2 separate regions of the Homo sapiens genome follow, and region 1 is linked to region 2. The links come from fine-mapping of genetic effects on gene expression. A gene starts in region 2. The other region holds a variant in brackets. All regions are shown on one strand. Distances are from middle to middle.

Region 1 (2,904 bases), 55 kb before region 2:
TCTGAAATGGGCCTCACTGGACTAGAATCAAGGTGTTGGCCAAGTCGCCTTCCTTTGTGGTAACTCTAGGGGAGAATCTGTTTTCATAGCTTTTCCAGCTTCTAGAGGCCACTTGCATTTCTTGGCTTGTGGCCTCTTTTCCGTCTTCAAATCTCATTACTCCAGCCTCTGCTTCCGTCATCACATCTCTTCTCCCTGATTCTGATCTTCCTGCCTCCCTCTTATAAGGACCCTTGTGGTTGCATTGAGGCCACCTGGATAACCCAGGATAAGCTCTTCATTTCAAAATCCCTGACTTAATCACATCTGCAAAATCTTGTTCGCACGTAAGTTGGTATATTCTCAGGTTCCAGGGATTAGGACACAGACATCTTTCAGCTGTTTGTTTTTTAGAGATGGGGTCTCACTCTGTCATCCAGGCTGGAGTGCAGTGGTGCAATCATAGCTCCCTGTATCCTCAAATTCCCAAGCTCAAGGGATCCTCTTGCCTCATCCTCCCTAGTAGCTGGGACTACAGGCATGCAATACCATGCCTGGTGAATATTTTTAAAACCATTTTTAGAGATGGGGCCTCACTGTGTTGCCCAGGCTGGTCTCTAGCTCCTGGCCTCAAGCGATCCTCCTGCCTCAGCCTTCCAAGTAGCTGATATTACAGACATGCACCACCACTCCAGTGTGGGCATGGACAACTTTGGTGGCTATTATTTAGCCAGTGGGGATGGAGGAGAGCTATGGATAAGAGATACAAGAAGGAGTCAGAGTGCCTGAACTTGGTGGGTGTGGGTGGTGAGGGAGTGCCTACAATTCCCAGGGCATGCATGGTGGCACCAGTCCCCCGCGTGGTCTGATGCTTTCCAACAGTGTCCCACAGTCTGGCACAGGCACAGAGCAGGCAGGCAGATGAATCCATTGAGGCTGGAGTTCTTGCCAGATGGGAGGTACAATGGCAGGATGATAGGGCAAGAGCGAGGGGGGTGGTTGAATCATGGATCCTGGAATGTAAGAGGGAAAGAGAGAAAGAGACACTTTCCTCTAACAGGTAAGAAAGTAGACCTGTCAACAGGAGAAGGAACTCACCTTTGCGGGTGACTGCTGCACACCTGGCCCTTGCTGTACCCTGGGCCTGTGTCCACTCTAGTCCATGACCCTGCCTCCTGCCGATGTGACAAGCACTTGAAGGTCAGTTGGGAGCCTCAAACTCAACAGGTCCCAAACCAAGCCCCTGACCTCTCCCCATCCTGCTTCTTCTGCAGCCTTTCCCATCATTCTTCCTTCTGACTGCTTAGGCCAAAAACCTGGTGTTATTCTTGGCTCTTTGTCTCTTATGATCCCCCACCCAGAGCTTGTCATCTCCACCTTCAAAATATTAGCAGAATCAGACCACTTCTGCTCCTTCACTCTGGACCAAGTGACATTATGTCTTGCCTGGACTGTTGTGAAAGCTCCTGAGGCATCTCCTTGCCCCTCAGTCTATTCCCTAAGCCCCATACCGATTCTCACCTTATTCGGAGTAGAATTCAGTCCCAACATTGGCCCTCAGGGCTCGACATGTTTAGGCACCTGTCGCTGCATGACTGGCTCTTGCCT[C/G]TCCTCCCACTCCTGACTCCACCCTGGCCACTGTGACTTCTTCCCTTTCCACAGGTATGTAGCCCCACCCTGCCTCAGGGCCTTGCATCCTGCTGTTCCCTCTGCCTGGGACCATCTTCTCCCAGATACTCACATAACCTGCTTCTTCACTTCACTCAGGCATTTGCTCAAGCTTACCTTCTCAGTGAAGCCTTCTCTGGGCATCCAATTTAAAAAGATAACACCACCTCCATCCCTGCATAAGGGAACGGCTCCGCCTTGGCGCCCTGCATGCAGCCACAGGGCCACGCAGCAAAGGTTCCCACCCTTGAACCACAGCCTAACCCAGCTTGGCACGACACCCTGCAGTCCTCCTGGAACACCGGAGGATGGAGGCCTCTCCCCTGGGAGGCAGTGCTGAGGCAGCTCCGCAGTGCCTCCTGGGTCCCCAGCAGAATAGAGCTGTGGAATTCAAAGCCACTTAACTGCAGTCAAGCTGTGTCAGGTTCCTCGGTGATGGGGTGTCCCACAACTCAGACCCAACTCGGACTGTGGTCGTCCAGGCCCTTGGCTTTGGTGGCATCATTTTAGGTGTGCAGGACAGGGACCCTGGACATGACACTGTCCCTGACTCTTCCTTTCATTGTCCATGCAGGTCACACACTGTCAGAATCTAAAAGTGGCTCGTTGTGTCTGCTCTGGCTGGGTCAGTCAGGGCCAGCCTGGTCTTGCTGCAAGTGCTTAACCACCACTCTTTGCTATGTTGTGTATTTTAATTATCATGTTCTGTTGTTTCTCCCTCCGTGAGGACAAGGGTTTTGTCTCCTTTTACGTGGTTCATGCCCAGTTCCCAGTCCTGGGGCTGATACACGGCAGGTACTCAGCAACTATTGAATGAATGAAGATGAGCCATCCTCAGGCCTTTTGTACATAAAGAAATCGAGGCACAGAAAGGTCACACAGCCAGTCATTGGCGCAGGTGGGATTTGAACCCAGGCAGTCCAGCTCCAGAGCCCACCCCTACGATTCACAGCTTCCCATTGGGGGAGAGTTTCTGCAAAGGGGAGGAATAGGTATGGTGGAGCTTGGATGAAAGCAATCAGGGAGAACTGGTATTTGGTTGGAGATCCAGTAGGTTTCTGGTGCTGACCCTAAAGGTGTGGCTGAGGGCCTGGGAGGCTGGGATGGAGTGGAGGATTGAGATCCTGAGAGCCCAGGGTGCTGGACTTGGCATGGGTCGTCCACTTGGTCACTGGGTCGTCAGGTGGAAGGGCTGGGGTAGGGAGGAGGCCTGCAGGCTAGGCCAGAGCCTGCAGCAGAAGGGTCTGGAGTGGGGAG
Region 2 (2,904 bases):
TGGGATCTTTAATTAATTGTCCCAGCCCCACAGCCCCAGTGCTAGCAGATTAAACCCAGCCACGGTGGGGAGTAGGCTGCGGACAGCTTTGGATGCAAATGCCTGAAGCGAAGGATTTCTGCCTGTGAAATGGCTGAGTGGGTGATTTTAGAGCAGCTGCGCCCGGGGCTGCCCCCAGGGAGATGAGCCTCCGAGCCCTCAGCAGAATCAGTGCAGCCAGAGGGTGCCCTTTTCTTACCAACTCATCTCCGGTGCCTGTGGGGTGGGAACCTCGGCCTGCCAGCTCCAGCCCCAGCCCCAGCCCCAGCCCCAGCTCCAGCGTGCCTTGGCCAGCCCCAGAAACAGGAGGGAGGATGCAGGCAGATCAGTTCCACAGTGACCTAGAGGTAACCATCCAGGTGCCCTCCAGGTTCCCCAGCTGTTTCGTTCCCGAGGCGGTGCTCCGCCCGCCCTCTGCCCTCCAGCTCCTCCTGCATCAGACCTCGGCCTAGCCTTTGCTGTCCCCATGGCTTGGGATACTGTTTCCTGGCTGTCACAGCAGGGCTGTGTCCTCTGCAGCCTCCAGGGCTCCATGTGAGTGTCTGTCCTCGAGGGACATCCTTCTGGACACCCCCAGGCTGCTCTCTGCCTCGCCTGCACAGCTCCTGCAGCAGAGCCTGGAAAGCTCCCTCTGACTTGGTGTTTTGTCACCTCGCCCGCTGGTTATCAGCCCCATGGAAGCCTGGTGTCGGTGCCTGGGACCAGCTACAGGGGCTCTCAGGAGGGCCTGGACCGGGTCTGGGGCAGGGAGGGAGGAGCAGGAGCAGGCAGAGGAGACACCGAGCTTCACTGCTGGCACAAGGACAGCCAGGACTCCCTTTGGGCCTGGGACTGGAGTAGACCAGAGCTGTCCTGAGCAGGGGGTTGTCCAGGCCTGTGTGGCTCAGTCATAGGACATGGGCCTGGGGAGGATGGCACAGGGGTGCTGTCTGTCTGCAACTGGGGGTGATGCTGAGCACGTCTGGTTACAGCCCCTAGCAGCTGGGCAGTGTATCCTTCCATGAAGCAGGTCTGAGGCACATCCCTGCATCTGCCACAGAGGTAAGTGCCTTCACCTCTAAGTAGACAAAGCACTTGTAACACAGTGGGCGCTTAGTTACTCTTTGGCTGGCTGTACAGGATCTAGTCCCTACTAAGCACCCCAATTCTGATAACTTTTGGTTGTCCATGTCTGAGTCCCTGTTCTGCAGGAAACGGCACCCACACTATGGAGCCCAGGGTCCTGTGCTGGGAGCTTCCCGCAGCCTCTGTGCCTCCTCCTCCCCACTGGCCAGGGGGTCCCACTGTGTCTATTATGGATGAAGAGGTGAAGGTGTGGGCCCCAGGACGTGGTGCTCCAACCTCTGTGCTCACTGCCATGCTCAGCATGGCTCCCTGGGAGCCTGACCCTGAGGTGTGGCATGGACGAACCCTGGGCTGGGCTTCCTCCCTTTGCCCCTGGCCTTTACCCAGCACGAGCACCTCTGGGAAACACCCCAACCCCCAGGACAGTCTGAGTTCCTGCACCCTTCAGCCCGGGCTTGCCTGAAGATGGCTGTGTCTTTCAGCACCTGCATCTTCAGTGACTCCCCAGACTCCCCGCAGTCCCCACTCCCCACCTCCCTGGGCCCACGGTATGCAGCCACACCCAAGGCAGCCCAAGTCCCAGTAGCAACACCACACATTCCCAGAACGCTTACGCTGGGCCAAATTCAGCCTGTGCCTCTCCACAGCCAATCCTGCACTTGCCGGCCCCTAACTCTGTAGCTGCACACAGGGCCTGGGCACTTGAGACCTCAGACTCGCCACCGGCTCCTCAGAGCCCCTGCCCAGGTCACCTGTGTAAGGAGAACACAGTGCCAATGCAGCACAGCATAGTGACACCCGGCCTGCCGGGATTTAGCCCCCACCCTACCTAGCGGTTCTGGAGCTGCCACTGTGACCCATGCAGGGTCGAGCATCCCAGGTGAGTGCAGAGCCCCTGACCCGGGGATGTCACTGCTCTGTGGGACTGTCAATAGTGATACAGGAATAGAATCAAGGGACATAGGGGCAGCTCTGCCAGCACAAACCATCAGTAGCATCCAGCTTGGGGTTGCACAGCATCAGAAAAGCCTTCCTGGAGGAGGTGGAGTCTGAGCTGCCTCTTTAGGGTAAGTCTTTTAACAAGAAGAGGACCAAAAGGGTGGGCTACGCTGGGGGTGCAGAGGTGTGGGCTGTTTTCAGAACACCTGGGCTTGGGGTGAGCTGTGGGGGTGGGAGGTCAGGCTGTGGAGATGTGGCTGCTGCTGGGGCCCCTGTGCCTGCTGATGGGGTGTCTCTGGTACCTGGAACCAGGTGGAGCAGGTGGGAGTGGCCTGACGGGGTTAATGCCCACCTGGTCTCCCCAAAAGCCTTTGGAATCCTCACTCAGGGTCCAAGGACACCCTTCAAGCTGGCCCTGCCCATTCCTCCAGGCTCCCACCAGGGCTCCCCCACATCTGTGTTCCCCAGACACTCTGGCCTTCTTTCAGGCCCTCCCAGCCACTGCTGGGCCTTAGCACTTCTAGAACGTTCTCCTCTGCTCCCCTGCACCCCACTACCAAGTCTTTGTCCAGTTAACTGCATCACATTCTTTGGGTTTGAGCGTCATCTGCACTGGCTCAGGAAGCCCTTCCTGGCCCCAGATGGGATGACCCTGCCCTGTCCCCTCTCCCGAGGGGCTTGCACATCTTGGTGCTCTCACGGTGGTATGCCCTGTGACTCTTAGAGTTCCTGGCGCACTGTAGGGACTCAGGAAATACTTGCCATGCGAGCGGAAGAGTGAATGGATGGATGAGTCACCATTCTTGTGGTGACCTGAGGGCTAGCTGGATCCCAGGCCAGACAGAGAGCCCAGGAGAGTGG

Which allele goes with the higher level. Alleles are on the strand shown, and positions count from the first base shown. SD is a standard deviation of normalised expression in the study named.
As copies of G replace C in region 1, the expression in prefrontal cortex of the gene that starts at base 1,760 in region 2 goes down (small effect, 0.33 SD a copy in ROSMAP).

The links. PIP is the estimated chance that this variant, and not a neighbour inherited with it, causes the effect. A credible set is the group of variants that fine-mapping cannot tell apart.
Region 1: its variant is the best candidate, but not a certain one, in a credible set for the expression of LINC02016 in prefrontal cortex (ROSMAP, PIP 0.78).

Annotation. Positions count from the first base shown.
Region 1 is chr3:127,444,864-127,447,767 of GRCh38, reverse strand. No RefSeq gene overlaps it. Among named protein-coding and RNA genes, the nearest start is that of LINC02016, 56 kb to the right of the region's middle. The variant C/G (reference allele first, on the strand shown) is at 1,588.
Region 2 is chr3:127,389,526-127,392,429 of GRCh38, reverse strand. LINC02016 (long intergenic non-protein coding RNA 2016) reads left to right here and starts at 1,760. Exons shown (of 5, transcript NR_110147.1): 1 at 1,760-1,984. RefSeq lists an enhancer at 1-738.